Homo sapiens: one gene and its partners. The main gene of each other region encodes a partner of the protein of the gene in region 2 in a complex. Each region holds a gene or a part of one and is shown on either strand. Other genes may lie near its edges. The genes, in order: UNC79, NALCN and NALF1. A codon is read from its position in the direction of its gene.

Region 1 (7,109 bases), on a different chromosome or scaffold from region 2:
AAGAGAATGTACAGTACCAATATGTTCCCCAACCTGCTTGGATCAAATTGTTTGTTTTTAAACCCATTATTGCTAAACCAGAGTGTTGACACTGAGCGCCGAGGAGTCCACTCATAGAGGATAAAATTGAGAGGCTGCTTCCGAGGACTGGATCTCCACCTGGGCCATTTTGAACTGAGTGCACTGCAACCACTTTCGGAGGGCTGCCAGGCCAGCACTGCTCTGGCCCGAGCCCGGCAGCGTCCTTAGGCTGTGGTGGTTCACGTGGTTCTGAATAGCCTGGAGGCGAAGCTGGAGTCCCGCAGATAAGTGCTGTCGAAAAAGGGCAAGAGGTTTTAGTTTATTTCTTTTCACGGGCAACCCAGGGAGTGTCGACCCGGGCGGCTTCTTGCAGGCAGAATTTAGGCTTGGCTCAAGGGTTGTCTGGCCTGAAGAAGGCAAACTCTCTACTCTGGCAGTGCCCAGGGCGGGGGATCGCACCGTGTTTTCTAGAGTCGTCCTGGCCCAAACCCATCATAATAATGACATGCTCACCTTGACAGACTCACTGCAATGAAAACATAAAGCTGCCACACCAGTGCTGGGCTAACACATAAACTTGGCCCCAGTGAACTGTTTACGACAGGGACCTGGTGTGGTGGTGAAGTGCCCGGGTTCTGCTGTCAGGATCCCTGTGTTCAAAGCCTGGCTCTTCTATAGGCGACTTTGGGAACAAGGTTTATTGGTCCGTGTTTGGGTTTTCTCATGGGTAAAGGGGGGATAGTGACACTTACTCAGGGGGTTTGTGTAGGACAAATGGGTTAAAAAAGTGCTCAGAACAGAACTTGGCACATGAAGAAGCTAGGATGATAGCTTCTCTTCTTTCTCCAAGCTTCTTAGGGAGTTCTGTCGGCCTGCTCCTGGCCATCTGGGCAATCGCCACAGATTGCCATAAAGCCGGGAAAGGGTAAGAGAGGCAATTTAAAATGCTTCAAGCTGAGAGTGCAAGAAACTCTCTTTTCACAGAAAAAACTAGTACCGAGAGGCAGTTTTCAGCAGTGCCCATGCCCCCGACGGCCGCCACAAATAGCACCAAGGCCGTAATCAGGACTCAAAGGCTGTGGTCATTGTTGACAGCCGCATTTTTCTCTTTTGGTGTCTGGGTACCCTGAGTTCATACCGCTTTCCTTCCACTAGCATCCCTCCCCAACTCGGAGAAGAAACCCAGCAAAAAACTTTCCAGCTTTTCCTCCCATCCCCCTGACACTCTTAGTGCTACAGACAGGACCCGGTTTGGATGGAGCAGGCAGCTGGCTTTGCCATCTTAAGTCACGCCCAGTAACTCTGTTTGCTGGTCATAGAGTATGTTTGCCCCTACAATGACAAAGCGCCAGTCAAGGCAAAGCCTGGGGCTGGGAAACATATTCAGGCGGGATCTCCTCTTTTAGGCTGTGGGGCCCTGACCAAGTCACTCTTCCTTTTGGTCCTAAATTTCTTCATATATAAAATGAGGCAGTAGGTTCCTTGTAGCTCAATCCTATCATTTATTTGAGGTTGTCCTGTCATAACAGAATTCTTCTCATGATAGAAAATCCATTTTAGCAACCAGGACACATCACTGAATGTGCCTAGGTATCCTCCAAGGGGTCGGTATGCTACTCCTCTTTTTTTTTTTTTTTTTTTTTTTTTGAGAGACTGGGTCTTGCTCTGTCTATATATACACAATCTTGTTACTGCAAATAGTGACAGTTTATTTTTTCATTTCCAATTTATATTTCTTTGATTTCTTTTTTTAAAATAGAGACAGGGTCTCACTCTGTTGCCTAAGCTGGAGCGCAGTGGCAGGATCATAGCTCACTGTAGCCTCGAACTCCTGGGCTTCCAAGTGATCCTCCCACCTCAGCCTCCTAAGTAGCTAGAACCACAGGTGCATGCCACCACAGCCAGTTAAATTTTTATTCTTTTGCAGAGATGGGGTCTCGCTATGTTGCCCAGGCTGATCTCCAACTTCTGGCCTCAAGCAAACCTCCCACAATGGCCTCTCAAAGTGCTGGGATTACAGACAGAAGCCATTGCACCCGGCCTCGGCCTGTACTCTCATCAGTGGATTGAGGCTTGCTCAGACCCTGGGATACCGCCCTCCACTGCATCCTCACCAACCTCAAGCAGTAGGACAATGGTTCCTGCTGCCACCCCCTGCCTGCAGAGCCCTTACCTGGCCCACAGGTCTCCTGCATTATCAGCCCTCTAAGGCCAGGAGCAGGTTGAATTCATCCTTCTCCATAGTAAATGGAGCATCAACAATCCCTAGGAACGTTATACGTTCTCTGCAGGAAACCGAGCTTCCAATCAGCCCAGGGAGTGACTTACCTTGATATTTGACTGAATCATTGGCAACCACATAGGTATCAGCTGTATAGAGAAAGACAAAAGCTTCATTATTAGTGTCCTCTATTCTCCCACAAAGCTTCGCTCATTGCAAGGGAAAACAGGCCACATTGAATCCCTTTCACGTCGCGCACGGATGTGGGCCCTGCTGCAGGGCTACCCGTTATCAGCAAAATGTCTTTCTGAGGCCAAACCCCGCTGAGCCAGTGGCATTTGGAGGTTAATAAGCGCCCCATGAGTGCCTGAGATACACACTTTAGAGTAAATGACTGATTGTCTCTCGAAAGCTACCAAGCACAGGAAATTAAATGTGTATTTATTTAATTAAATCCTCACTTTCTTGAAATAGAATTTCCTCCACAGGATCTTTAGAACTGAGTGTCTGAGTGGAATGGCGACTCTATTTGCCTGTAGTCATTAAGAAAATATCTCTGGTCAGTGGATGGAACACTTAAGTGAGCGAGAAAGACCACTCCAAGATGCCTGGCTGCGATCTGGAAGGTGTAATACAGCGAGACTGAGCCGGGTGTCTGCGAAGTGTGGGAGCACACACAGCCAAGCAGCAAGTCCCTGCTGGAGAACCCTGGCCCTCTGCTGCCTCTCTGACAGGACCTCAACCCCTCTGATGTGGTCCTTCCTGGGAGGAGGTCATAGGTGCCCTGGCCTGAGGACCTCCAGAAGCTGCTCCTTCTCTCTGCTTTGGGCCCTCCTCCGTGTTTCAGTCCTTTAAAATCTAAGTAAATATTCATGGCCTTGTGCATCCAGAAGTCGGAGACAGAATATGGCATTCCTCAAACTGTGTCCCATGGCACTCTAATTTGGAGAGCTTTTAAATGGTGGAGGGGGACTCCGATCCAATAGGTTTGGAAATGTTAGTTTCTATATTTCAGTACTTCTCAGATCTTTAATACACCAATATGCATCATATCATTTCGCTCCATATTCCTTCCAACCCTCCACTCAAATAAAGGAGTAGTGTTGTCATGCATTGAATTGTGCCCCATTAAAATCTATATTGAGGTCCTAATCTGCACTGCATCACAATGTGACCTTATTTGGAAATGGGATTGTTGAATATGTAAATTAGTTAAGATGGGGTCATACTTGAGTAGGGTGAGCCCCTAATCCAATATAACGGGTGTCCTTATAAAAAGGGGAGTTTAGACACCTACACACAAACACACAGAAAGCATGCTATGTGAAGATGAAGACAGGGACCTACAAGCCAAGGAACCCCAAAGACCCAGCAAACCACCAGAAGCTAGGAGACAGGTCTGGAACAAATTCTCTCTCCAATCCCTTAAAAGAAACCAACCCTGCCGACACCTTGATCTCAGCCTTCTGGTCTCCAGAACTTCCAGGGAATACATTTCTGTTGGTTGAACCACCCAGACTGTAATACCTTGGTAGTCCTGGGAAGCCAGAACAAGGGCATTCCAGGAAGCAGAGAGAAGGCATGGCGAAGCTCATTGGTGGGAGTGTGCAGAGAGTCGGGGAGGGGAGACAGTCACGTGATGCTGACATGTGAGGCTCTTAGAAAACGGCCATGAAAAACAAGTTTAGAAAAGCACAGGCCAGGCCTTCACACCCTTAGCCCACCAGATGGCCCTAAATGCCAAATTAGGGGATCTGAATTTTATTCCAAATTCAATACAACTTCCGAAGAGGGGATGCTCTATTCACCATGAGCAAAACAGTGCTCCAGACAGATCACCGTGGCAGCAGCCTGCAGATTAGGGTGAAGAAGGAGGCAGGGAATGGAGGCAAGAGCCACTGTGGAGGTTGCCTCAATGGTCCAGAGAAGACCAGGGACAGTTTCTGGGGATGGGGAAGGATTCCACCTGCAGAGACAAATCTTGAGGATCTGAGGATGAGTCTGCTCTTTCAAGTGAGGAAAAGGTCAAAGAAGAGGTAGAGGTTTCTAACCTGGGCAAACTGGGGGACACTGATGTAATGAACAAAACCAAAGACGAAGGAGAGCTTTTTGGGATGGGGGACAGTATGTGAATGACCTCAGAGTTCAAAGTTAGTCATAGCCATAAGCTGCTGGTTTCATTGAATTCATCACATTTTCTTTAAAATGAACTTGGTGAAGTGATAAGCTGCATTTCTCTCCCTGTTTTTGTTCCCAAGGCTAAATCTGGCTGTTGTTTGACTTTTAACATTCTGTTGATGTATATAATTCGCTAATTTGACTTCTATTGACATTTACTCCTAAACATTCCTAAACGTAGTGTTTCTGTTGCAGCTAGCTAACACTTGGTCTCTAACATGAATACTGTGTTTATAAATGGAGTATGGTGTGTATCAGAAAATGTAATGAGACTAAAGCTGAAAATATCAGAAGATGCCACCCTCTCCATGCCTCCCCCTGTCCCCCAACCCTCATAACAAAACGGTGGGATTACAAAGATTGGTACCAGATAAGGCTGTGCCCTCTGACCCTTACTAGGACTGGCTCCTCTAGACATTCTGAATGGAAAAAAAAAATTTATCTAGTCTAACTGTCTCCCCCTATAATTTCTGCACAGCAAAAAGCAAGCCCTGGAGGGTGCTGATGCTACAGACTTTGTTGACCTTTGACTATTTAATACAGAAGTGGGCCCATACGCCTCTTGATATTTGGGAAATACCCAAACTAACCTCCTGTTAAGAATTGTGAGGGACTTGAGAAGAGTAGGGTCAGGGAGTACTGAGTACCCTGTCCCTGGGTGGATACCTTTCCCAGTGCTGCCACTGTGGCTAAGCGTCCATGTGAAGCAAGCAAGGGGAATAGTGATGTTGGTCTAAAAGTGTTTTTATTATTTCCCCATTGATGTAATCTATGACCATGTGATTCTAAAATATACCTGCAAGGGACCTTCAGGTTTGTGATTTGCAAATCACGTGACTAAATGTATCCAGTTAAAGCTCATCATTATTGATGACATTATATAACCCAGCCATCACCCTATTTCAGAAATGTTAATTTGACTTATTGAATAACTTTCATTTTCATTCTCTTTTGCTAGTGGTTCCTACAAATCTGTCAGTAAGAATTAGATGTGATTTATTTTGGGCTCTGCAATGTTATGATGGAGTAAAGTTGGTTGGGCTTTTTTTTCTCCCCCCTCTTCAGAAACAATATCCTGAAAACTGAAGGACATTTAAAAAATAGGTTTTCACAAGAATAAAAGTGATACCCTTCCTCTTATCTTGGTTCATGCTACAGAACAAATGGAAGACTTCCTGCCTGGTTGGACTGTACTCATTTCAATCCTGCTTATTCCAGCCCTCAAAATTAAAATTGGTGATGAAACTTTCTCTTTCAGCCAAGATGGAGTAACAAAGACCAGATTTACCCTCCTGCCTGGGACAACTAAAAATCCAGACAAACTATAAAAAACAATGTTTTTCAGGTATTGAGCATCAAGAAATGCAGGACAGAGATCACTGAGGGAAAGGAAACAAACCAGGTGAGTCCTGCAGGTATTCCAGCTCACTGCCTAGAGAGAGTTTTCAGGCAGTAGCACTGGCAGCAGGAATGCAGGTGGAGCCTGGCAGTCTTCCTGAGTGAGGAGAGGTAGCCAGGAGCCCTGGGAGGTCAAAGTGACTACAGTTTTCAAGGTAGAGTACTGGACAGGAGAGATCTACAGAGAGAGAGACAACTCCAAAGATCTGAAAAGGGATCCCCCTGAGTCTTCAGCTGAGTGCTGACCAGTACATGCAAGTTATAAAAACTACCCAACACTGGAGAAAAAACGACCCGAAAATCTTAGAAGGAAAAAAATCCCCTGGTGATTATATAGGGCCAAGAATATTTTGTGTTCCTATTAGTCAGAGTGGAAAAATCTTATAACTCATAGAACATCATGAGAGTACTGATAAGGATAGTGGTATACAGCAGCAGCAGTGAAGAACTACGTGCCCTACAAAAATTGCTGCTCTGATCAATACCTAACAAAGCTTAAATGTTAGCCTCAGAAGGATAAAGATATTTGTAAGTTATGTAACTATGTCACAGAATACAGCTTAAGAATATTTTATATGAATATAAAAATATCCATCACCCAAGAAAGTCAAATTAACAATGTCAAGAATACAATAAAAAATTACCAGGCATGCTAAGAAACAACAACAACAAAAGAAACACACGAATGAGGAGAAAAATCCATTAACAGAAAATAAAACAAAAATGACACAGATAACAGAACTAACAGACAAGGACATTAAAACAGTTATGATACCTATATTCAATATGGTCAAGAAGGTAGAAGAAAGATTGGGCATGTTGAGTAGAGGCACTGAATAAAATATTTGAAGAAACAATGGCTGATATTTTTCCAAATCTAATGAAAACTATAAATCCAGAGATTCAAGAAGCTCACCAAACCCAAGCACCAGAAATATGAAGAAAACTCTACCAAGGCATAGCATCATCAAATTGCTTAACCATAGTGGCAAAGACAACAGAGGAAAAAAGACATATCACATACAGACAAAAAAGATAAGAATGACAGATTTCTTGTTGGAAACAATATAAGCAAAAAGACAATGGAGGAGCAATATCTTTAAAGTATTGAAAAAAAAAAAAAACCTCCGAAACCATCCATCTAGAATTCAATACCCAGTGAAACTGTCTTTCAAAATTGAAAGCAAAATAAAGCTTCTAAAACATACAAAACCTAAAACAATTAATCACCAGCTGACCTGCACAGGAGACTTTACAGAAAATCCTTTGGGCAGAAGGAAAGATGAAAGAT
Region 2 (7,073 bases):
GCTGTATTTACTGGGTATGGTGTTATACAGCCATTTACAATTTTTAAGTAAGAAAATTATATAGAAATATTTTAAATATTTATAATAAATATTCAGTGGTAAAAACAGTATAAAAGTTGTCCAATGCCACGATGACAACTACCTGAAGTCAAGCCCTTAAAAAGACTACAAAAAACACACAGATATTGTGGTCATCTGTCTTCGGTTATTAAAACTAGCTGTTTACTCTTTTTTCTCTATCATTCTATCATCTCTATCAACTTTGGTTACTTTAAAATTCAAAAAATCAATTAAAAAAATTTAAGCATTTGCATAGAGTTTGAAGGTATGAAAATCTGTGCTGGTCCTTGAGACAGGCGAGAATTGTATAACATGAGTGAAGCTCTAAAATGTTGATAACATTTTGGGACAGGGGCATTCTTTTTTTATTTTTAAACAGAGTCTCACTCTGTGCCCAGTCGCCCATTCTAGAGTACAGTGGTGCCATCATAGCCTGCTGCAGCCTTGACATCTCTGGGCTCACGCGATCCTTCCACCTCAGCCTCCCAAGTAACTGGGGCTACAGGTGTACACCACTACACTTGGTGAATTTTTTTTTTTTTTGTAGAGACGGGGTTTCACCATGTTGCCCAGGCTGGTCTGGACTCTTGGGTTCAAGCAATAGGCCTGCCTTGGCCTCCCAAAGTGCTGGGATTATAGGCATGAGCCACCGTGTGTGGCCTTGGGGACCATTCTTAATATGTTTAAGCTCACTATCATAGTTTCCACAGCAAAACTAGAAAATAAGACATCTCACTGTATATCCACCTGCTTACATATTTGTCTTTCCTGAAGGATTCTTAGGCTCTCAGTTTATCTCTTTTTCTCACTCACCACCCAGCTTCTGGCCCAGTGCTTAGCTTATCTTAGGATATAGAGGTGTAGATGTGAATTTTCATTCACAAACTTGAAATCCACATGTGACTCTGACCTGGGATAAATTTATACAGCTATGGAAATTCTGAAATTATCTGAACATCATCGATAAATGATAAAACAAATGTGTACATTTGTGTATACACATACATGCACACACAAAGCATGCCGGAATGATAAAATCACCTGGAAACCATTTCAAAGAAATGCCATACCCAAGAAGAAGAAAATGCTACTCAAATCTTCAGTTCACTAAATTGCAACTAAATGACACTATTTTGAGTAGACTTTTTTTAAGTACATTTTTTAAGTACATTTCTCCTTTGAATATCTTGCAAGTCCTATCCAAAGTTATAAGTGTACAACCACTATTTTATAAGACATGCTTTCTCCTAGAGTTCTGTAGAGATTTTAGCATAGTCCTTATCAGTGACGGCACATTTATTCTGCAAACAGATTATGTCTTCTATGAACACAGAAGAGGATCCAACTGAACCTTTTCACTTTTTAAGTTTTTCTCCAAAGCTGGATTTTGTCTTCACACTGTCTGGTTTTAGCAGTGGCTAGGTCAAAGTATACTACAGAAGAACGAAAAATCGACTCTAGAAAAGCACGCAGAATGACAGCCAACCAGTTAGGGAGTAAATGTTTCTCGTTGCAGATGTTTGGGAAGCCATGATTTTTATTTAGAACTGTGGAAACCTTATCTTTGAATTTAAAAAGCCAGTCCTGAGATGCATCTGCCTCAGGGGTAACTACCATAGTGAAACCGCTCCTCTCCCAGGCCATATCAAATCACAGTTGTAGTTATGAACATACAAATCACACACATATATATATATATATACATACATATATATTTCAAAATCGCCACCTGTTAATTTTTGATCCCCTATTAGAGGTGTTATCCACCAACTACTAACACGAAGGTCACTGGTCCTCAACCCACATTTCACCACCAGGGCAGTCGGGCCTAGCTGATGACCACACGAACACCAGATTAAGAGTAAAACCTTCTGAGGCCTGAAAGTGAGCGTGTATTCACACATCCTTAATAATACAGTGTCTGAAAAATTGTACCTGAAACTGAAAGATTTATTCTAAGGTATTTCAAGCACTAAGGGTCTGAGTTCAGCATTCTCACACCATCCTGAAAGAGGAACATTAAGTCAGCAAAATGACTGCGATCTGGGCCCCCAGAGGGATCCCAGCCAGGCCATCCTTGCTGGTGTCTTAAAGATTCAGTGACAAAATGGTGTTGCTTGGCAGGACACTGTTTTGCGTTCGGTGTAGCCACCCTAATGACGGCTGCTTAACAAGGCCAATGAATATCATAAGGGACATTTAGCAAGGAGCAATCCACAGGAGCATGGGGGTGGGGCAAGGCCGCGGAGCCCCCGCGGAGACCTGCTGGAGCCAGGCTGCCCACCCCCACCTCCCCACCCGCGCGTTGGCCCAGAGGTTTACCCAGGCAGCGGCCCTGGTGCCGAGGGGGCAGGTGCAGCGCTGTAGTGATGCCCAGTGGCCTCGTCCTCAGCCACCTGCCCCCCAACACCTGCTAGATGCCCAGGCGGGGCAGGCCCGAGGTGTCGCCGGCCCTGGGCTTCCCAAGCCAGCCCAGGGGCATCCCGCGGCAGGCGCCCCCGACACCCACGCGCAGGAATAGGGAGGGCGCATCGCGGCTCCCGCGCCCCGGCCAGGCCGGCAAGGACCCCACCGCCCCGCTCTCGGGTGGAGGCGCCCCTCCCCACCCCTCCCCCGCGCGGGGCCCCCGCCCGCAGCCCCTCTAGCAGCCCCTCTCGCAGCCCCAGCGCCCCTGAGCCGTCCTGGCCCGGACCGGCCAAGGAACTAACGAGCGCGCATCGCGGGCCTCGGGCGCAGGGCACGGAGCCGGCCGCGCCGCAGCCTCCCGGGCACCGGCGGCGGTGACCAACCTGTAACCCCAGCGCTCAGAGCTGTCATGGTGCCCGCGGGCGGCGGCGGCGGCGACAGTGGGCGACCGGCAGGATCAGTGCCAGGCGCGGCGCCCAGGGCGGGCGGGGACGCGGGCCCCTCACCTACGGCGGCTCAGCTCAGGCAGCGCGCTCGGCCCGGCTGGGGCCGCGGCTCACGCTCGCCGTGTCACTCACTGAGCGCCGCCGCCGCCGGGCAGGCTGGGGGAGGGGTGGGAGCCGGAGTTTTCGGGCCTTTAAAAAATTATTATTTTATTTAAATTTTTAAAGTTAGCTTTGCTACAGGGACTGCAGTGATGCCGAAGGGCGGGCACCGCAGAGGAGGCTGCGCCGCAGTTGGTGGGGAGCGCCAGGGTCGGTACTGGCAGTTCCTTCTTGCCGGCTGCCACCCGCAGTCAGTCTCACAGCAACAGCTAGGCTCTCATCTGCGAGCTCCTCTCGGGGGTCTTTCGTACTCAACAGCACGGCGGCGGTGTGCACGGGAGTCCGCCGGGCACACGCGGGGTACACTTAAGTGCACTGCCAGGAGGCCGGGAGCCCAGCGTGCGAGCGTGAGGTCAGACTGTGCACGGTACCGAGGACTAGTTCCATTCCTGAGTATGAAAGGGTGAAACCGTTCACCTCAAGTTTCACCCCGGAGTTATTAAATAATGAATGCATCAGTCACACTTATAGTTTTCTAAATAGGTTGACGTTCGCCTTTAAAATTAAAATATGTTGTCGTGTGGATGAGACAAAGTCTATTCAGAAATTGACAGTCCCCCACCCCATACCCTGTGAGTATACCTGGACAGCAGACTGCATCTGAGGCTTCCTAGGGCTCCCAGCAGAGCAGGTTTAGGGAAATCTGGCCTCCTAAGCACCATGCCCAGGGCGACATCCTCCCACTCATTCCCACTCTCTGAAAGGTTTACTTTGGGTCTGGAATCTTGCCATGTAGTCAGATACGAAAATCCCCAGGGAACTCCTGACCAGTGATTTAGACATCATGCACACAGGCATATAAATAAAGGGAAAGAAACAACTGAATGAAGCTTTCTCTACAAGAGAAATTCTAAACAAAGAGCATTTGTCTATCACAAAATGTTATGTGGCAAGGTATAGAAGTAAAACTACACAAACCTACATTTTAAAAATGTATTTTCTGGTTACAGATATTTAATTAATCTACTTTCTTAAAAAGTCCATTCACAATTTGTTCACATTCATAATCCATATTAGTACGTTTTATTGTTTACAGGGAAATGTTAAAATATTGGTATTTCATGAAATACAGAGTCATGCGAGATAATTTTTCAAATTTCTAAAGACTTCAGAAAAACTGTGTCAAAAGCCAGGTTTTAAACAAATGATGAAATCACTCCTCATAAGAAAAAATTGACAGTAATTTAAACAATGCTAAATCTACAACCAGTTTGCTTAGAAAAAGTATTTACCAACTTGTTTCATCATCTTTATTTGCGGCTTTCAATTGCTTGTTCTAAATACTAGTTTATTTCACAAACTGAAATATATAGCTATATATATATGGTAGCTGAATGATAGTGTGTTATTCCTTGACATTCGTTCGAATTATCTGTTAGTAAATTATATTAAGGAAATATTTAAACATTTATTTATAATGTTTTGAAGTGGTCAAGGCAGTGATTTTTTACTAATCTCAGTGCCACTCCTCACCCAACAGGCATTTCAGACCTTTCTCTGTCCTTGGTTGAACTACCTCTGTTAAGTCTCTATAATTCATGCTCATGAGCCAAACAATCCCAATGATGATGGAGACAGTCTCAGAGAATTCATGGGCTTCAAGGAAGTCATGGAATCCAGCACACTCATCCTATAATGCATAGGGATTCACTGTGTATTGGAGTAGACAATCATTTTAAAAAACAGGTACATCCAAAATATCATAGTACCCCTTCTACCTGCTCAGTATCTCTCTTCTTTTGTTTTCTTTGTTATTTTTAGAGACAAGGCCTATCTCCGTTGCCTAGCCTGGAGTGCATTGATGTGATTATAGCTCACTGCATCCTCAAAGCAAAAGTAGAAAGGATGAACAAATATCTTTTCCAGGTTGAATTGGCCCTGTAACTACATTCATTGCTGGAATCCAGTAAAAGTCAATTGCTGGCCTGTGGGTTCAATATAAACTGAGAATATAATTCAGGTGTGTTTTGTATGACTCAATGTATATTGTTGACAAATTAAGATCAATTACCAACATTTGAAAACCACAAGAATTTTATTTTATCAGGAAAAATAGGAAGATATGGATAACAGGCAGCCTCCACCATGCCCAGCTAATTTTTGTATTTTTAGTAGAGACGGGGTTTTGCCATGTTGGCCAGGCTGGACTCGAACTCCTGACCTCAGGTGATCCACCCACCTTGGCCTCCCAAAGTGCTGGGATTACAGGCGTAAGCCACCATACCTGTAGGAGTCTGAGGCATGACAATCACTTGAACTGGGGAGGCAGAGGTTGTGGTGAGCTGAGATTGTGCCACTGCACTCCAGCTTGGTTGGGTGATAGAGTGAGACTCCGTCTTGAAAAAAAAAAAAGGAAGGAAGATCTGGCCAGGTCAGTTCTGCATTCCCAAGTGGTAGGGGGCCAATAGGGGCATCCTGTGCCTCCCATAGGTGGGCATATACTTCCCATTTGCCTCCATGTCCCCAGCCTGCTTCAATTCCTGGCCCTGGAAGGTGTTTGCATGTAGGAGCCTATACAATTAAATCTGTATTTGACGGTATGAGATTGGGGAAAGGATAATGTCAAACACAGAGAAAGCAGTCAATACAGAAAGTTTTACAATAAAGAGGATGAAGCCAAGCCAATGCACAACCAAGATAGTAGTAGCCTTTGGTTTAAATGAAATTGTGTTCATGGTCCTGCAAGTGCTTTGGAATGGATGTGATATCATTTGTCTGTGTCCCCATCCAAATCTCATCTTGAATTGTAGCTCCCACAATTCCCATGTGTTGTAGGAGGGACCTGGTGGGAGATAATTGAATCATGGGGGCAGTTTCCCCCATACTGTTCTTGTGGTAGTGAATAAGTCTCATGGGATCTGATGGTTTTATAAGGCCCTTTCTCTTGGTCTTCATTTTCTCTCGTCTGCTGCCGTGTAAGACGTGCCTTTCGCCTTCCACCATGACTGTGAGGCCTCCCCAGCCATGGGGAACCGTGAGTCCGTTAAATCTCTTTTTCTTTGTAAATCACCCAGTCTCCAGTATGTCTTTATCAGCAGGATGAGAACAGACTAATAATACAGGAAGTAGCTATGAAATGCAAGACAGCAAGAATTTGATGAAAACAGGGTATTTGTTTTTCACTAACTCATTTGTTCCTACTGCTTATTTCCACCTTAATTAGTATTTCACTGGACACCATGGTGAGTTACTGGGAAAACAATAGGCATGCTAAAAGAGAAATTTGAAAATCCATGGAGGGACTGTCCTGTGCTCTATGGAAATATAGACACTGAATCAATTGGAGAAGAATTCTGCTCGAATATAATTATGTTTCATTTGATTTATGAGTAGATTATGCTTTAGTAACTACACAAGACTGTAATATTTTTGAGACTCTCATTAAGATTAGGTTTTTTTTTTTTTGAGATGGAGTCTCGCTCTGTCACCCAGGCTGGAGTGCAGTGGCGCAGTCTCGGCTCACTGCAAGCTCTGCCTCCCGGGTTCACGCCATTCTCCTGCCTCAGCCTCTCCGAGTAGCTGGGACTACAGGCGCCCGCCACCACGCCCGGCTAATTTTTTTTTATTTTTAGTAGAGACAGGGTTTCACCGTGGTCTCGATCTCCTGACCTCATGATCCACCCGCCTCGGCCTCCCAAAGTGCTGGGATTACAAGCGTGAGCCACCGCGCCCGGCCTAAGATTAGTTTTAATCCGTATACACTTGTTTATGTTCTGTGATTTCAAGACCCACATGTCACCAAATATTGCTATGATGAACTTTTAGATGCTCTTTGGGCAGGGAAAATTAAGGTTTAGAATACACACCTAAAAATGTAAACAGGCTAACTAATAGGCATCTCCTGCTTGTTGCCTCACTAACATGGATTTACATGTACAGGCGTTCCTGGAAGACAGTGCAATTTGGTTTCAGACCAATGCAATAAAGTACATATCACAATGAGGCAAGTCACACAATTTTTTTTTATATTCCAATGCATATATAAGTTATGTATACACTGTA
Region 3 (7,109 bases), 5.8 Mb from region 2:
AAGGATCATAGGTAGCAGATGATCAAAAATATATACATTTAAAACTTTCAAATTTGGTACATGGTGATGTGAGCACCATAAAGAAATGATGCACGAGATACTGAATTTAGTAAGTGTGACCAAAATGGTAAATAACTCCTGATCATTTACAGAAATTGTTCATTGATTCCAAGGGGTGATATTCCCTTTTTTGTGAATAATAGGAATCCTAGGTATCAGTATATAGCCAATAGGACAATGACAGGAAGAACTTGAGATCTCTAAGATTCTGGGTACAGAGAACGCTAAGAAAAGGAATCACCATGCCACTGGTTTGTCACTAAGGAGAAGCACCTTGAAGAAAACTGATGCTCACATGGACAGTATCTGTCATCAGGCCATGTGCAGTTACGTGCTTACAGAATACTTTTTTTTGAGGTCAATAAGAAAAGTAAGTGAAGAATCCTCGATATCCTAGAGGGAATTCTCCGTCCTTCTGGAAGCTGTGAATTGGATGCAGTTCAAATAGTAGGAAAACCATTATAATTAAATCTGTTGAATTTGAAGGAAACTCCACCTATTCCTTTAATTCTTAGTGAGAAATGATTGCATTTTAACATCTAGAGTGGAAATCAAATGCTTGATGATTTTTTTCAAAAAGAAAAATTGCTGGAGGCAAGAGGAAGGTCACCTTACTTGGTGAATTCTTTTTGATGAAGTTACTGCATTTTACTTGGTTTCATAACCTACTCTCATTTTTTTATTTTATTCTGGGCATACCATCTCCCTTCCCATTTCTTTTTTCCCTTAAACTTTGATATATTTATTAAAATATTTTGTATGAGATTAAATGATGCTATAACTACACTGGTCTTTTTATTATTCTGTTTTCAGAGAAAAAAAACAGAATGTAAATGGCTCACATTTACTTGCAAACTTATTTATAATGTAAACTATTTAAAAATCCGTGTACATTTGTAGGAGACGGACATCCAAAAATGTGCAACTTAAAATCTGGGAACAAATTATATGCACATATGTCTTACTAGTTTCCTTAGACGCATGACAAGCCACTCCACAGTTTAGCCAGTGGTCCTCTGGGAGCTGTCCTCTATTCTAACATCATCCAAGATGAAACCCATTCTGGGGCCCATGTCTGGGACTCTTATAAGCAACGGGCAGGCAGCTGTGATGGACAGGAGTAGAAATCTCCTTGCTCAGGTCCAGCAGTGCACTCTTTCATTTTCTTTTTCATTTGAGACAGGGTCTCGCTATGCTGCCCAGGCTGGAGTGCAGTGGCAGGATCACAGCTCACTGCAATCTCCAGCACCTGAGCTCAAGCAATCCTGTCTCTGCCTTCCAAATAGCTGCGACTACAGGTGCACATAACTGTGTCTGGCTAGTTCTTTTATTTTTAATTTTTTGTAGAGGCAGGGTCTTGCTACGTTGTCCAGACTGTCCTCAAACCCCTGGCTTCAAGCAATTCTCCTATCTCAGCCTACCAAAATTGTGTGGATTACAGGCATGAGCCACTGCATCTGGCCTCAGCAGTGCACTCTTAAGGGACACCTGTAACCGATGATGGGAAATGATGGCTGCTAGTTATCAACATGAATGAGAATTCTTCAAAGAGGCACAGGTCACACCTTAGAAAAGAAGATCAATATGAAAATTATTATCTTTTTCTGTCAGATTGTTTTACAGAACTTCAGGGTGAAATAACCTCAGAATTTATTCCATATATTTTCGAGCAATTTAAACATAAAATGAACATTAACCCAACTGAAAGTGACATAAGAACTACTGTTCTTAGGTTTCCAAATGTTCAGTGATGAGATTATCCTAGGGGGCCTCTCACGGAGATGGCACTTTTCTCTGGATCTGATAAATCTCTCTTTTCCTGCCACTTTTCCTTAATGACGTAGCTATGTCTATGAAGAAGCTGTTTTTACCAAACTCGAAAACAATTAAAACTGCAGACTGGATTCTCTGCCCATGTTGTGAAGTGAGAGATTTAATTCTACCCTGGCATTCTGAATGTGTATGGAGGAAGTGGGTGAACATTCAAACATATATTTCAGATTCACAAATACAGATACATGTAGGAAAAAGAAGATAAACGCAAACACCTCGCCCTTCATTTGGGTTTTTTGTCTACTTTGAGAACTTGGTTCAAAAACTATTGTTCTTCTCTAGGACAAAAGCCAATGTGAGTGTAAATGCATAAACACAACCTGTACATAAAAATCGAATAGCTTCTCTGAAGTCCTCATGTCACAGACACCTCATTGTCCCACAAGAAAAAAAAAATGAAGGCCTTATCTTCATGGTTATTTGTGGAATGTTGTATGCAAAATTCAATATGAATTAATAGCCTGTGTCTGGTGAATTTTGTCTCAAACTCAAAGCAAGAAGATATTGATATCCTCCTTCCCTCCTTCCCTTATTCCTTCTTTCCCTCTTCCCTCCTTCCTCCCCCTCCTCCCCCTCCAGCAGAGAGGAGCTACATAAAAAATGACTTGAGCATCAAGTCAGTAGAATAACACACAGGCCTGTGAAATCATTCTGCATTTCACTTTCTCGTGTGCAACGGCTATGGCTGGTCAATGACATAACTTGCCCTTCTCTCTTATCTGTAATCCTTGCAGCATATCCACATGGGGGAGGGTTTGGCCATTGCACTTTCTAATTTACTAGTGAAGGGGTGGTGCCTCTGAGAGAATGTACAATAGAAACAGGATGAAGGCCAATGCTCCTGACCTTCAGTCACGTGTTCTTTCCACAAGCTTGGGCAGCATAAGAAATACTAATCCAGGCTGGGCACAGTGGCTCACGCCTGTAATTCCAACACTTTTGGGAGGCCAAGGAGGGTGGATCACTTGAGGTCAGGAGTTGGAGACCAGCCTGGCCAACACGGTGAAACACCGTCTCTACTAAAAATACAAAAATTAGCCAGGTGTGGTGGTGCACGCCTGTAATCTCAGCTACTCGGGAGGCTGAGGCATGAGAATCACTTGAACCCCGGAGGCGGAGCTTAAAGTGAGCCGAGATCACACCAGCCTGGGTGACACAGAGCGAGACTCCATCTCAAAAAAAAAAAAAGAAAGAAATACTCATCCAGTTCTTAGGGCGAGCTTTGGCAGACTATCTCTTGATAGCTTATCACTTAGAACACTGTGGCTAATGAATACGTATGTAAATAAGCGATGCTGAAATAATTTGATAAATTCTCATGTTGAGCATCTTAATATGCTACTCTGTTTTAGAGGAGTTTGGCAAGTCTAATGTCAGAAGAGCATTTTCATGTGTCTCTACACATATGATGGTGTTTTATCCTTACACTTGAAAACAAAACGTGCTACAGCTTGAGCCACGTAATTCCAGGGACGCCTTATAGCATTATTGTTATAGAAGAGAATGCAGAGCCACCACTCGGATTATCACACCACCCTGGCAAAGTATCTTGTTCTCACCATTTAATTATCTTTTTATTTTTTAAAAAAAGGCTCTTGCTCTTTATATCTTATTCTGTCTAAATTATGTAATGCTTATAAATATCCAGAAAAGGAGTGCTGATATTGGTGTTTTGCCCAGTCTGACTCATTTGCTGAAAGAAGTAAACATCGTTTAATGGATAGACTTGTTGTGTGGCTCTAATAGACACACACACACACACACGTACAATTTAGGCAGATATTTTTAATGCTCTTAATACTTTTTACAGATAAAGTAACATAAAAATTCTCAGAAAATAAAATAAAAGAAAATAGGCAAGAGAACATAAACTTCTGACTAATTTGAAAAGCATTATTTCACTGGCCTTAGCACATCTCCTGTTCTTATGGAATTCAAAGGCAATGCAGGCTGAATCTAACCTATACTAGGTCACATGTAAGTATATCTAATGATTGCTAATATTTTGCCATCAGATTTCTTCTTTCACACAGTGAATAACTGTGGTCTCAGTTACAGATAGACCATGTGGTACAGAAGCTGAATCATTTCCAGACCTGTTGAGGGGAGCTTTCGGTGCTTCTATTAGTGAAAGTGCGGAAAACTACCAGCCGCATCTTCAAGGTTATATCAGTGAAAGGAAACAGCAAAGCAAACAAACATCACACAAGAAAGCAAAACCACCGGAGACTGGTGTACAGACTCCCACCCGGCACTGTACCTGTACAGATGAAACTGGAGAGGCCTCCGTAGATGACTTCATCATTGTCGGGCAATATAAATGGACACCTCGTCTGAACCTCCAAACAGTATTGCTTGCAAGGAATTGTCTTTCTGCAGTTAAACTGTGTGACTTCAAAATACTGGGAACAGAGCCAGGCTTTGTAGACAATCTGAAAAAAAGAGAAGAATGAAAAATATAGAGGCGTGACAACAGTTACAGTGATAGAGGCACTGTGAGAAGCGTGCAAGCGTGCTGTGGTTTCAAGTGGATCCTAAGAGAGCCCTCATTGTGAGAAAGCGTATTTACACAACGACAGCTGCAAGTGATAAAAACACAGCAACGAAAGTCTCCGCAATAAAAGCAAAACAGTATTTGATTGCATCCCTAATAGAATGTAAAAGGTATTTTGACCTTTAATTTTATGTGGCTTATTTGAAAATCAGTGGATTTAAGCAGGAAGTTAATTTTTCAAAATTCAGCGATATCTAAAGTAAAATAAATAATTGACTCTATTGCTCTTCTGTGCTGTAGTTACTTGCAACGTGGCTGATGAGCCAGTTCCCTCCACACGGAGTCCCACGTCTATGCCTCCATAGGACGCTAGATGGCGCGAAGCACTTTATAAAGATGGCCCAGCAGGGGTTGGGAAACTGCTGTTTAGATCTTGGACTTTGAGAGGCAGAGAACAGGCAGATATGGACATTTACATTCATGACTCACACCAAATGCATTAAAAATCTCACTGTCTGAAAGCCCAGAAACACCCGACATAGAGCAGACATCATATGCTGTGGTGTGGTTGGGAGTAGGAGGGAAGCCTCATCAGAGCCACAGCTTCAACCTTCTGGATGATGTGCAAGCCACATCAATGTTTGCTACGTATTTATGTAATTTCATCAAATGTGAAAGGACTGGGACTTCATTCATCTCTTTGTTTTGGTGGCTATTTGGGAAAACAAACATTGAAAAAATTGCCTTTTTCTGACACGAAGGAATAAGCTGATCTTAAATTCAAATACAACAATGGCAGATGTACCAATTTGCAGTACAGGTTACTGAAATTCAGTTATTCTCCAGGTCCTTGGCACTAATGGCTTTTACTTATCTATTTCTAGGGTTAATATTATCCAAGTAACATTTTGCCGGTTATATTTTACCTAGAAAAATGGAGGCGCAGCAGTTAAAGGTAGCCTAAGAGATTATAAATACCTAATAATAACAAGAATAATAGCTGGTATTTATCAACTTTATACTCTTTTCTAAGTAAGCTGTAAACTTTTTTTTCCATGTGATTCTCAGCATGCACTTTTGACCATAACTATTACTCACATTTTGAACAGGAATAATATTAAGTAATAGTACTATTAGGTAATGGAAATGGAAAATCCAGACTTCAAACCCATGTTCTGTAGGGCTCCAAAGACTGTGTTCCTAATAGTTATCCTATATTTAATCTGAAAACTACTTTTAAAGCACTTATGAAATCACAAGGGAGTTTGCAGATGAACCTAAAATCAGCATGGCCTTCCATGCCCCGGGTCAATATCTATTTGGTAGAAGGAGGATTGTATTTTTTTATTCATAACATTAGGTTGATCAAAATGACGCTTTATTCTGTGATCAAGGTGACTTGGTAGAGGTAAAATGAGATAAATATCAAAGTGAGATACACTTTTAAATGGCCAAAAGTAATTTTTCTTTGCCAGTCATCAATGGCTCACAATCACCATGTAACTTGTTAGTAAAACCTACAAATAATTAGAATTCTTATAGGTCTTTTGAATGAGTCTTCTCGTAACAGTGTACACTGAAAAACTGCACTAGAAGAAAACGTTACAATAGCCGAAGAAACCTCTAAGAATTCTTATGCCAACTGGGAAACGGAGGTGGGCTGTGGCTGTGTGCCCCAGGAGGACAGCAAGAGGCTGCCTCAGGGGGACAGGTGAAGGTGGAGGTGGTGCCGGCAGCAAGAGGCTGGAAGCACCAGCTTCAGAAGAAAAAGTGAAATGATTTCTTAACCAAACCATGGGGAAGTTGAAAACGTTTGTCAAAATGCCATAGACATTGACGTTTGTGTAATATGACATGATACGTAATATGACATGACATTTATTATGTAAACTAAGCTGTAGTATAGGAATGAGCCATGTATCCTCTGATTCCTGGGCTTAATAACCTTTCTCAGGTACTAGAGGAAGCAGGATAGGCTTATACCTGCAGTTCAAAAAATAACATTCCATTATGAGGACAGCTTGCTTTCCGCACATTTCTGGGATTCTAAAGTCTAGAGTTGCCTGTTTTTCTTTAAGGAGTGCCCTATGTAATGCCAGAAAGTGGCTCATGTTTTCATTGGCCAAATTGGGGTCCCCATTCCCACCGCTCCCTCACACGTTGCCTTTCCACCGTTATTCCAGTTAAAATGGGTTCTGAATAGGGAATCGCATCCTGCAGCCATAAAGTCTTAAGAAACAACGTCTCCTCTCTCGCAGACGGTGGGGCGTCCAGTATTGGAGTCTCTTCAGATCTAGCCATCCTCTTTGCAACCACTTTCCTCAGCATTGCCCGATGGGAACATATCCATTTTTATTCTGGCTCCTTAAATTCTATTTCCGCTATATTTCCTTTGCAGATTTTTTTTTAACTCAAAAAAAAAAAAAAAAAAAAGAAAAGAAAAAGAAACTAGTAAGAGATCACAGCATTTTTTTTTAAGTATCAGGTAGTAGTTAGTTATGAAGAAAAGTGATCGAGCATCATTTGCAAAGCCGCCGGCAGAATCCCAGACCTTATACACTGAGCTATGACGACCTCTCCGGCCAGGCTCCACGGTGGCATCCGTTATGAGCTACCTCCTGGGCTTTGAGTGTGCAATGAATATTCCTCATTTGAGTATTAAATATTTTCTAAAATTTTAGCTCTAGGGGTAAGATACATCAGAAAACAAGTGGGGGAAACC

Evidence for each region.
Region 1: the proteins of NALCN (region 2) and UNC79 are in contact, whole or in part, in a cryo-EM structure (PDB 7SX3), measured with the Homo sapiens proteins. Residues at the interface, in NP_001337678.1 of Homo sapiens: Gln349, Met350, Phe351, His352, Glu353, Gly358, Trp359, Gln360, Leu361, Phe712, Ser713, Ile714, Arg717; in NP_001333147.1 of Homo sapiens: Cys861, Gln862, Ile865, Glu968, Pro969, Asp970, Phe1020, Gln1022, Pro2088, Asp2089, Ala2092, Pro2093, Leu2095, Leu2096, Met2099, Leu2139, Pro2141, Asn2142, Gly2143, Ile2144, Gln2147, Leu2148, Ser2151.
Region 3: the proteins of NALCN (region 2) and NALF1 are in contact, whole or in part, in a cryo-EM structure (PDB 7CM3), measured with the Homo sapiens proteins. Residues at the interface, in NP_001337678.1 of Homo sapiens: Cys207, Val209, Asn220, Leu222, Ala223, Ile224, Pro225, Thr227, Tyr237, Pro240, Phe243, Tyr406, Glu409, Phe909, Ala1044, Lys1045, Asn1047, Pro1049, Arg1054, Ile1060, Arg1062, Ile1063, Asn1064, Val1065, Ser1066, Lys1069, Lys1080, Lys1081, Gly1083, Phe1084; in NP_001073865.1 of Homo sapiens: Lys278, Glu281, Phe282, Val285, His287, Lys288, Tyr289, Leu290, Gln291, Glu294, Tyr295, Ser296, Val297, Lys298, Ser299, Tyr308 (codon at 4,319), Trp311 (codon at 4,310), Leu312 (codon at 4,307), Gln315 (codon at 4,298), Leu335 (codon at 4,238), Gln338 (codon at 4,229), Thr339 (codon at 4,226), Cys341 (codon at 4,220), Phe343 (codon at 4,214), Ile344 (codon at 4,211), Leu345 (codon at 4,208), Pro346 (codon at 4,205), Asp347 (codon at 4,202), Asn348 (codon at 4,199), Asp349 (codon at 4,196).

Annotation. Positions count from the first base shown.
Region 1 is NC_000014.9:93,699,907-93,707,015, reverse strand, and holds part of UNC79 (protein unc-79 homolog), read right to left. Parts: intron 2,392-7,109; coding exon 2,350-2,391; intron 313-2,349; coding exon 112-312; 3' UTR 1-111. UniProt on the Homo sapiens protein: Auxiliary subunit of the NALCN sodium channel complex, a voltage-gated ion channel responsible for the resting Na(+) permeability that controls neuronal excitability.
Region 2 is NC_000013.11:101,413,464-101,420,536, forward strand, and holds the start of NALCN (sodium leak channel NALCN), read right to left. Parts: upstream 3,046-7,073; 5' UTR 2,850-3,045; intron 1-2,849. UniProt on the Homo sapiens protein: Voltage-gated ion channel responsible for the resting Na(+) permeability that controls neuronal excitability. NALCN channel functions as a multi-protein complex, which consists at least of NALCN, NALF1, UNC79 and UNC80.
Region 3 is NC_000013.11:107,206,431-107,213,539, forward strand, and holds part of NALF1 (NALCN channel auxiliary factor 1), read right to left. Parts: intron 4,326-7,109; coding exon 4,154-4,325; intron 1-4,153. UniProt on the Homo sapiens protein: Auxillary component of the NALCN sodium channel complex, a channel that regulates the resting membrane potential and controls neuronal excitability.